Linked DNA regions of Homo sapiens: region 1 is linked to region 2. Evidence: fine-mapped QTL for protein levels in blood plasma. A gene starts in region 2. The other region holds a variant in brackets. All regions are shown on one strand. Distances are between the middles of the regions. Region 1 overlaps LAMP2 (lysosomal associated membrane protein 2). Region 2 holds the start of LAMP2 (lysosomal associated membrane protein 2).

The links. A credible set is the group of variants that fine-mapping cannot tell apart. PIP is the chance, under the fine-mapping model, that this variant and not a neighbour inherited with it causes the effect. The UK Biobank Pharma Proteomics Project read protein levels with antibody pairs (Olink). The fine-mapping took linkage between variants from a reference panel, not from the people measured, so its PIPs are less certain.
Region 1: its variant is the best candidate, but not a certain one, in a credible set for the plasma level of the LAMP2 protein (UK Biobank, PIP 0.73).

What each region holds. Positions count from the first base shown.
Region 1 is chrX:120,448,037-120,455,146 of GRCh38, forward strand. LAMP2 (lysosomal associated membrane protein 2) reads right to left here. Exons shown (of 9, transcript NM_002294.3): 4 at 934-1,092. Among named protein-coding and RNA genes, the nearest start is that of LAMP2, 18 kb to the right of the region's middle. The variant C/A (reference allele first, on the strand shown) is at 240.
Region 2 is chrX:120,465,502-120,469,852 of GRCh38, forward strand. LAMP2 (lysosomal associated membrane protein 2) reads right to left here and starts at 3,795. Exons shown (of 9, transcript NM_002294.3): 1 at 3,605-3,795. The coding sequence starts at 3,668. RefSeq lists a silencer at 3,733-3,997.

The DNA of each region.
Region 1 (7,110 bases), 16 kb before region 2:
GAAAAGGGACAAAAGAAACCAAAGCGGACATTTTCTTAATTCATAAGGCCAGGGAAAACCAAAAAAAATTCTCATAATAGAAGTCCAAAAGGGTTATATTAGGGGAAGAGAATATCTTGTTAGTATATTTGAAACTAAATTAGGCAGAGGTTCTTAAACTGCTGCTTCATATACAGAATATCTACATGAGTTATGACACAGCAAACTCAGGACACATCCCTATGCTTTATCTGCTCCCA[C/A]ATGGCCACATACTCGTCTTTTTCAGACCCTTAAATCTTTTTATTCCCAAAGAACTTTGCCTGCCTCTGATACGAAATTCAGAGAGTTAAGTCTTAAATTTTTTGGTTCTTTATTCCCACATACAATCACCATAAGGAAGGATACTGTTTACTAGAAAAAAGCTTAGAAATCATCAAAGGACTTAAATACAAATGAACCATTTATTTGCATTAGCCCTATGGCAAATCATAGGCATTTCAACCTCTTCTTGGGAAGTGTTCATAGTTTTCCAGAACTGGTGAATGAGAAATTATTACCTTTCCATAAAGCTATATAAAAATTATAAAATCAACTTTAAAAATTCAAGATTAGAATATGAATCTGATTTCTAAGCTTTGGTCTTGGAACCGCTAAAAAAGCTGATAATCAAGCTATCTGAGGATCTGTTCAAACAATGATTAGGTTTTATCAGCTGAGAACAGTATAGGTAGTGTCTTTTAAAATACCATTCCACAACATGTACATCAAAAACTTTAAATTGTAAGATACACAAAAATAAGAATTGCTATTATTTACAAAAACTTTATAGCCTAGTAGAAGCTATGAATAAACCTTAATATATAAATGCTTTCAGATAATGACTTCAATGAAAGCTACCTGGTATACTCTACTCTTAAATTAGGATCCAAGTAGAGAAATATATACTTTACTCACCATTTGTGCTCACTGTGCCATTTTGGACAAAAGCTTGTACAAGAACATCCCAGTAGTGTTGGACAACATCATTCTTTTCCAAAGTTGATAAACTATTGCATCTAAAAAGGTCATTCAATGGAATTCTGATGGCCAAAAGTTCATCAACAGTAAGAATTCCTATAAAACAAGATTAACAATGGCTATTTCCAAGAAGGTAGGAGAAAAGTGATAATATAAATATATTTGTATAGGCTTTCTTCTTCTCTCTGCCTGCCCTACCCCAGGCACAAAGTGACAAAGGATATAGCATGCTTAAGGGCATGACTAGTTCACTGTGGCTAAAACATAAGGAGTAAGGGGGAAGAAGAAATGGGGGTTAGGGGCTGGGCACAGTGGCCCATGCCTGTAATCCCAGCACTTTGGGAGGCCGAGGTGGGTGGATCACCTGAGGTCAGGAGTTTGAGACCAGCCTGACCAACATGGTGAAACCTCGTCTCTACTAAAAAGATAATAATTAGCTGGGCATGGTGGCAGGTGCCTGTAATCCCAGTTACTTGGGAGGCTAAGGCAGGAGAATTGCTTGAACCCGGGAGGCGGAGGTTGCAGTGAGCCAAGATCGCCCACTGCACTACAGCCTGGATGACAAGAGCAAAACTCTGTCTCAAGAAAAAAAGAAAAAGAAAGAAAAAAGGAAAAGAAATGGGGGTTAAGAAGGAAAGACAAGTTGCAGGTGATCATACTTTGAAGCATCTTCTATGATCTAAGGCCTGTTTGGGCTTTTCTTTTTAGCAGTCGAGGGCTAGCCTCAGTTTTTAAAGCAGAAAATAACACATATATAATTTATTTTAAGGAAGATAGCAAATTTGTAGGGGATAAGCAGGGGGAAAAACTTTTCAGGGAAGCCACTTAAGAGGGAAACCAGAGGGTGATGGTCTGGTTAAGGTGAAGGGTAAGGGAGGGTTGCCTAAACTAAGATGGTGTGGGGCAGTAGAAAGAGAGCAAAGAAGCCAAACTGAAAACACTTATCTATGGTAGAATCATCAGGACTTAGTGACTATAACTAAAGAAGCAAGAGAGATGGATTAATCATACATTTGTATAGTAAATCCTTATTTTTGTTTTACTAGTCCCAAGTAAGTTATATTAACTCCAATGAGCTTATAGAACCGCTTCCTGGATTACATTTAAAGATGATTCCATTTCAGGGAATCTTCAGAGTATGAAAGCAGTAAGTTACAGCCATTTCATATAGTTTTTATTAGCCTGTGTATAGTGAAACTTCAAAAGACGATGATCACCCAAGTGGTTTGGCTTCTTTTGGAGAAGTAGCAAGAAAGGAAAGTATCCAAGGTCCTTAATATAGGCTGCCTTCTGTGCCTCTCCATCATGTAGCAAGCAGCCATATAATGCTGCCTTGGCACCCCCTAATGGCCATAGGAATTAAAAAACAAAACAAAACAAAAAACCAATGAACTAGAACATTTTTCCCAGAATTGCTTCTCACCGTTAACAAAAATGAATAGATACGTGACTGGCTGTATATAGATGGACTTCAAAAGCAAATCAGCAAAAAAACAACTTGCAGGCATATTGGAGTTATACTATGAATAGCTTTTTTTAAACTATGTATTGTTTATGAACACGTACTTATATAGTAAAAGACAAACATAAAGACAGGAAGGTTATACCCCAAATTTGTGAAAGTGTTTGCCTCTTAGCAGGCAAGAAGGAAAATGGGTCTGGGGAATGAAGACAAAGGAAATATCAACTGTATTGTCAACGTTTTATCTTTTTAATCAAAAAAGTAACACAAACATTAAAAAAACAGCATTTATTAATTCTGGATAATGGGTACATATGGGTCTGCTATATTATTCTCTGTATACATATATAATCTTTATAGATATATAATCTTTATATATATATATGTATATGTAGAGCCTTTTAAAAAACCCTTATTATATACGTAACTTATATATATATAATTTTTTTTTGAGATGGAGTCTTGCTCTGTTGCCCAGGTTGGAGTGCAGTGGCATGATATGAGCTCACTGCAACCTCCACCTCCTAGGTTCAAACGATTCTCATGCCTCAACCTCCCAAGTAGCTGGAATTACAGGTGCACGCCACCACGCCCAGCTAATTTTCGTATTTTTAGTAGAGATGGGGTTTCACCATGTTGGTCTCGAACTTCTGACCTCAGGTGATCTGCCTGCCTTGGCCTCCCAAAATGCTGGGATTACAGGCACGAGCCACCACACCTGGCCAGTACATTTCTATATTTTAATCACGAAAAAAATTTAAAAAAGAAAAAAGCAGCTTCAATGTTACTTCAGTTATCAGATGCCTAAAAATAAATTAGTAGTTTTTTATTTTTATTTTTTGAGACAGAATGTCGCTATGTTGCCCAGGCTAGTCTCACACTCCTGAGCTCAAGCGATCTGCCTGGCCTTCCAAAGTGTTGGGATTACAGGCGTTGAGTCACTGCACCTGGCCTAAATTAGTTTTTTTTGTTGTTGTTGGGGGTGGGTAAGGAAGGGTCTCCCTCTGTTGCCCAGGCTAGAGTGCAGTGGCGTAATCTTGGCTCACCGCAACCTCCGCCTCCCAGGTTAAAGCGATTCTCCTGCTTTAGCCTCCTGAGTAGCTGGGATTACAGGCACGCACCACTACCACCCGGCTAATTTTTGTATTTTTAGTAGAGACAGGGTTTCACCATGTTGGCCAGGCTGGTCTCAATCTCCTGACCTCCAATGATCCACCAGCCTCAGCCTCCCAAAGTGCTGGGATTACAGGTGTGAGCCACTGCGCCCAGCCATAAATTAGTATTCTTGAAACACTGAACTATATCAAAAACAATTATTAATAGTCCATTTCAGGAAGCCATTTAACATTCCAAATAGTTTCAAATATTATTATATAGAAGGTAGTAATTTAAAAAGTAATCCTCCCTTTGTTTTAAATAAAAGGGGAAAGAGAGAAGTGTTAACATTTCAGGGTCCATAGTTTTTCTATCCAAATATGTCAGATTAAACACCTCCTCCTAATAACTGCTAACAACTGATGCCCCTGTAGTCCAGGCATTTATTACATCAGCCCTTGATTACTATAACAGCTTCTTAAGCCAGCATCTCTGCTTGTAGCCTCCTCACTTCTCAACTAATCCTGCAGAATATTCTTTATAAGCTACTGTCTCTGCTTTTGTTATATCATTCTCCTGCTTTAAAAACCTAAAATGATTCCCCAGTGCCTGCCCCATCAAGCTAAATGTCTTTCCTTGGCTTCCAAGGCCCCCTATAATTTAGGCCCACTTCATTTAGCCAACTTTATTTTCCTTCTGCTACACACACAGCCTGATTTAATCAGGCAGCTCTCCAATTACTGCCGCATATGCTATGCTTCCCCCTGCTGGAAACATCCTGCTCAAAATCCTCCGCTTACTCAAATTCTACCATTAGCTGAGTTTCAGCTCAGGTCCTACTTCTCTACCAAGCTTTCTCACTACTCTAACACACACTGAGCCTTCCTTTATCACTCCTCCTAATCAGGACCACTTGTGGGAACACGGGAACACTTTTAAATCAGCCAGTCTTTTCTTTTTCTTTTCTTTTTTTTTTGAGACAGGGTCTCTCTCTCTCTGTCACCCAGGCTGAGTGTAGTGGTGGGATCACAGCTCACTGGAGCCTCAACCTCCTGGGCTCAAGCGATCCTCCACCCTAGCCACCCAGGTAGCTGGGACCACAGGCACACGCCACCACACCTGGCTTTTTTTTTTTTTTTTTTTTTGTAGAGACAAAGTCTTAATATGTTGCCCAGGCTAGTCTTGAACTCCCTGGCTCAAGTGATCAGCCTGCCTCGGCCACCCAAAGTGCTGGGATTACAGGCATGAGCTACCATTCTCGACCTAAATCAGGCACTCTTAACCACAGGGATCTACATATGGGTTCAGGGACTATGTTCCATATGCAAAGTTTACTGTGTACTTTTTCTTTTTTGAGAGGGAGTCTAAAGTTTTCCTCACACTGTCAGAAGAGATTTATGAACCCTCTACTCCCTCAAACAAAAACGCAAACAACAACAACAAAATCAGACTGAGCTCAATGTTTTCCAATTTTTCCATGTAACTCGGGAATAGCATTTAGCTTTGTCTCCCCAGCTCATTCTTAGGCTACTTGAAAGTGAGGGGCATATCTTATACTAGCTCTGAAAGGCAAAACAGGGCACAAAGATAAACTGATAAGATAGCCAATAACCATTTGCTTTAGTTATACTCTCAAACTAAGAGATTAGTAAAAAGAACACTAGGATTTGATTTCCAAGTCTCATTCTGCAATACCTCCCAAATTTTACGTGAGCTTATTTACTTCTGGTTCTTTCGAATAGGATCTTTTGACATCCTTAAGTCCAAATGAGTTATTAATCCCCAGGTCTAGGCAACTAAAGCCCATCTACCTGTTTCTGGGGTCAGAATGAAACACTATCTGCAAAGAGCTAAGCTACTACAAATACCACATTAACTCAATCTCAACGGGCAGGGGGAGAAAGAAGAGAATTATATCCCTAACAAAATTAAAATCTCGACCACGTGCGGTGGCTCACGCCTGTAATCCCAGCACTTTGGGAGGCTGAGGTGGGTGGATCGTGAGGTCAGGATTTCGAGACCATCCTGGCCAACATGGAGAAACCCTGTCTCTACTAAAAATACAAAGATTAGCCGGGCGTGGTGGCACGCACCTGTAATCTCAGTTACTCAGGAGGCTGAGGCAGGAGAATTGCTTGAACCTGGGAGGCGGAGGTTGCAGTAAGCCGAGATCAGGCCACTGCACTCCAGCCTGGGCGACAGAGCGAGACTCCAGCTCAAAATAATAAAATAAAATAAAATCTCTACACTCTATATCTTCAAAATATTTTAACACGCATTTCAGTTCTGGGAATTACTAGAATGGCCTAATTGCCAATGCTTCCCAAGTTCATTTTGACCTGAAATTGTCTTAAAATAACAGCAAATGTTGACTTTAGTCTCCCCTTATCCACGGTTTTTGCTTTCCCTGGTTTCAGTTACCCATGGTCAATTGAGCTCTGAAAATATTCAATGGAGAATTCCAAAAGTAATCAATTCATAGGTTTTAAAATGTACGCCATTCTGAGTAGCATGATTAAATCTCTTGCTGTCCCGCTCTGCACAACCAGGAACATGAATCATCCCTTTGTCCAGTATATCAACGTTGTCTACACTATCCATCCGTTAGTCACTTAGTAGCCATGTCAGTTATCAGATCAAAAAAAAAAAAAAAACATAGCATTTCCTGTATAGGGTTTAGTAGTAACTGCAGTTTTAGGCATCTACGGGAGATCTTAGAATGATACCCCCTGAGTGTAATGAGGGACTACTACACCTTTAACTAATCATCATTTACTTTTCAATCAAAATCCAACCTAAATGATAAAAAGATTTGAACAAGAGGCATTTCTCCTAGTCTCAGGTTACTTAACTTTTACACATTTAAAATAGCTATTAGTAGCCAGGCACAGTGGTGCATGCCTGTAGTCCCAGCTATTCAGGAGGCTGTGAGGCATGAGGATCGCTTGAATCCAGGAGTTCAAAACCAGCCTAGGCAACATAGTGAGACACCCCCCCCAACCCCCGATCTTGAAAATAAAGTAGCTATTAGTAAAGCATTTTCTCATTCATCAAACCTTTGTTTCATGCACACTACTGAATGAAATCAATAATAGTTAAGTATATGAATTCTGCAGGTCAATAGACTGCTTCAAACACCAGCTCGCCCACTTACCAGACTGTGTGATGTTTGGAAAAGTCATTTAATCTTATCAAGCCTCATTTCCTTTACCTGTAAAAATGAAACAACATCTACTTCCCAGGGTTGCTGTTAAGAATTAAGTGAGATGCTGCAGGTAACACACTAGGTGTGTTACTGTATACTAGGAGATATATATATATATATACACACACACACACACTAGGATATATATATATATATATACACACACACTAGGATATATATATACATATATACTAGGATATGTGTGTATATATATACTAGGATATATGTGTATATATATATATACATATATACTAGGATATACATATATATGTATATATATACACATATATATGTATACTAGGATATATATAGTAAGGTGACTTACTGTATACTAGGATAATACCTGGTATAC
Region 2 (4,351 bases):
TGTCTGGTCAGTTACAATTCATCCAAATAAACACCAGCATAATTTAATCTCTATGAAAAAGACCAATATATAGCCTCTAAGAATCCTTTTCTGTACTTATTCTAAAGCTGCTGTTTTTAAAAGGTTATGGGTGAAGCTGGGATAGAGTTATAAAGTTACAAAGTCAAACTGGCACAGCTAGAGCACTAATGCTAATAAGACTATAAATTTAGGACAGGTCCTCCTTCATTGGCACTCCGTACAGTACCCAGGCACAGTTCTAGCTACATAGTAGGTACTTTACAAATATTTATTGATTTAGCTACATATTAGGTACTTTACAAATATTTATTAAGTTTTCAAAAACCTATTATTGGTATCCATTTTGATATAGAAAAGTAACTTGTGCAAAACCCACCAAGCAACTGCTAAATTCTTGACAGAAAAAGCTATATGGGAGGACTTTGGGCTCCACACTGAACCAAGAGCCATCAGAAAATGCAGCTGTATAGAAAAATGGTTTCTATTTCATCCTGGAACCTCTTAAAAATCAGATCTAGGTACATTATTAATATTTACTTTTCCAAATCCTGCTCTGAACTTGGAGGCGGAGGGAATCAATCTTGGAAATTTTCCAAGAGGAAGAATCTAGTTAGTCCTGATCAATAAATGGCAAACTAGCAGATGAGCTGATGGGTTCTTTTATGTGCTTCTTTTTGCATGTTTATTTTCTGCAGTGAGTAAGCATTGCTTTTGTAAAAACAAAACAAAAAAGCTTTCATTAAAAAACAAAAAAAAATTTAATGACATGAAAGCCAACAAGTAGGACAACTATTATTTTTTTCACTTTCCCAAAACAATAACAGTGTTGTATTTGTGCACAGATTCAATTGGCAGGGAACTACTGATTAACAGATGCCTTGGTCAGATGTGTTCTAGTCACTGATAAGGTACTTTCCATTGTAAACAATCCTTTCTTAGGGTCAGTTGGCCCTCAGTAAGTGCTCCAAGGTACAGTTAAGGCTTCCAATTAAGTATTCAAGCAAAGCCTGCCTCAAGGCCGCCTTTCAGAAGTGCTACAGAAGAGTTTCCTGCGCGCTGTGAACAGTTGGACTACATCAGGGATTCCCAAAGTTTTGGTGTCAGGACCCCTTTACTTTCTTATCCACTGAGGACTTCACAGAGGTTTATGTGAGTCATATGTATTGGTATTTACAGTATTAGAAATTAAAACTGAGAAATGAATAAAATATAAGAACATCAGAGTGGTGAGGTCATCACATGTTACGTAGCCACTGGAAAACTCTGCTGTACACTGGTGAGAGGATGAGAGTGAAAAGGACAAAGGACAAATAACTTCTTTTTTTTTTTTTTTTTTTGAGACAGAGTTTCGCTCATGTTGCCCAGGCTGGAATGCAGTGGCGCAATCTTGGCTCACCGCAACCTCCGCCTCCTGGGTTCAAGCGATTCTCCTGCCTCGGCCTCCCAAGTAGCTGGGATTACAGGCATGTGCCACGACACCGGCTAATTTTTCTATTTTTAGTAGAGACTGGGTTTCACCATGTTGGTCAGGCTGGTCTTGAACTCCTGATCTCAGGTGATCCGCCCGCCTCAGCCTCCCAAAGTGCTGGGATTACAGGCGTGAGCCACTGTGCCCAGCAGAAAAGGACAAATACCTTCTTAACCTTATTCCGAAGTTTTGATTTCACAGACGCATGAAAAGGTCCTCGAGAGTCACTGAATTAGATAATCAAGAACCCTTCCAATACTATGGTTTTCGAGCAGGATTTATCAATGTTGGCACCATTGACATTTTCAGGGAGATGATTCTTTGTTGTCAGGGGCTGCCCTGTGCTTAGTTAGGATGTTTAGCAGCATCCTTGGCCTCTACCCACTAGATGCTAAAAGCAATCCCCCAGTTGTTACAACCAAAAATGTCTCCAGATGTTGCCAAATGTCCCCTGGTTGAGAATCACTATTCCAGGGTGTTGATTTCATTCTACTGAAATGTGAATTACAAAATGTATACCTCTCACTGCTTTCTCAGACCCCTAATATGTCTATTTCTTCCCCACTCCCATCTGGGTCTGTTCTTTATGTTATTTTATTAAGTCACAAATAGCAAGAGCAGGTGGGTAGCAACAAGCACAGCATGAATCAAAGTCAGGAAGAGACACTTTAGTCAAAGTTCACTTTTAGGCATTAAAGTTGTTAGCGACCCACTGCCTATTAGGGCACAACACAATCAGCGAACATTCACCCAGCCATTTATTTATTGATTTATTTATTTTTATTTTTTGAGACAGAGTTTCACTCTTGTCGCCCAGGCTGGAGTGCAATGGCGCAATCTTGGCTCACTGCAACCTCCGCCTTCTGGGTTCAAGCGATTCTCCTGCCTCAGCCGCCCAAGCAGCTGGGATTACAGGCATGTGCCACGACGCCCGGCTAATTTTTGTATTTTTAGTAGAGACGGGGTTTCACCATGTTGGCCAGGCTGGTCTTGAATTCCTGACCTCAGGTGATACACCCACCTCGGCCTCCCAAAGTGCTGGGATTACAGGCATGAGCCACCACGCCCGGCCCCATCCAGCCATTCTTAGGCCCTGGTAACAACCCAATCCTTAGCAAGTTTGTCTACCTGCTCCCTGCACCCCCAAAATATGAGGTAATAGGCTAGCTGTGTGATGGGGAAGAAAGAAAAGAAGAAACTCTGAAGGCAAAGAGGTAGTCTACCAAACTCAAATACTCCACCCCCAAAACCTCACATCTGGGAGGCCCTCCTAACTGAAACGTCTGGGGATTTTTTTGTCAGCGTCTGGCTGGGAGGAAGTAGCAAAACTGGGAGAAAATCGACATCCTCAATACCTCCAAGTCAGATGTGCACTCCCCATCAAAGTTCCCCCTGAACCCCTTAGTCTCCAGAGGTTGGGTCCAAGTTTTCTTTCCTGGAAATTGCCCCAGCTACCTTAGGTTCCTTCGCCCTTAAAACTATGACTACCAAACTCAAACCCAGCATCACTCCTAATCTCTTGAATCATCCTTTCTTCACAGTCTCAAATTCCAACCTTCAAAATGCCCAACCCTGTCACTGCCCCTGCCCCTCAGGCTCTACTGTCCTATCTGTCCCATCTGTCCCCCACCCACACACTTCTCCCAAGCTACTCCAGGCAGGCATGGTCTTCTCTCTTAATTTCCTATCTCACCCCATAGTTTTTCCACCATCTTCAAAACTCTTCCCTGATCTCAGCAAACCAAGACTCTCCTAATTGTCTCTGGCGCCCAAAATCTGCATGTACCACCCTCCTACGCTCACTCCTCAGTGTTTTCCCCAAGTTACTCTTTCCACGCTGACCCTCTCCACGCTTCACTCCTCCCAGCCTACTCCCTCGGCGTCCACCCCCCGTTACCGGCCCCTTCTTACTCTCCTGGGCCCTTCTTCCCCGCCATCCGTCGGTCAGGCCTTCTCTAGGTCACCGCTTGCCTCCCCGGGCCAACCGCCGCCGCCCAGTGTTAGCTGCTGAGCCTCTCAACCCCCTCCCCCTCGGACCAGTCTTTCAGGTTGTAGCTTTGAACTGGTGCCCCGGGCCCAGGCGGACAGACTAATCGGGAGGGCCCGACAACTCACCCAGGACTAGGCAGACCAGAACGAGCCCTGAGCCCGGAACCGGGAAGAGGCGGAAGCACACCATGACCCCGCAGAGCAGGCGGCGACGGCGGCGACGGCGGCGGTACAACAACAGCTGCAACACCAGGGAAAAGGCTCGCTGGACCTGGGTCAAGAGCACTGATGACCACCGACCACAGCCTTGCAAAAGCCAGGAATCGGCGCTTCAGTGCGAGTCATAAGACTAGGGGCGGGGCTCTTTCTTGCTTACAGCCAATCTCCGCGCTTGAAAGCGGCGAGAGGGGTGGTGATGTAGCGGCCGGTGGGCGGGGCGACCACGCCCTGGCTTTTTGGTTCACAGCCCTTCCTATGCTCCTGAGAGATATGCGCGGACGGCATTTTCTTTTTCTTTTTCTTTCTTTTTTTTTTTTTTTTTTAATTTTACTTTAAGTTCTGGGATACATGTGCAGAATGTGCAGCTTTGTTACATAGGTATACATGTGCCATGGTGGTTTACTGCACCTATCAACCCGTCATCTAGGTTTTAAGCCCCACATGCATTAGGTATTTCTCCTAATGCTCTCCCTCCCCTTGGCCCCCACCCCTTGACAGGCCCCCGTGTGTGTTGTTCCCCTCCCTGTGTCCATGTGTTCTCATTGTTCAACTCCCACTTATGAGTGAGAACATGCAGTGTTTTGTTTTCTGTTCCTGTGTTAGTTTGCTAAGGATGATGGCTTCCAGCTTCATCCATGTCCCTGCAAAGGACAT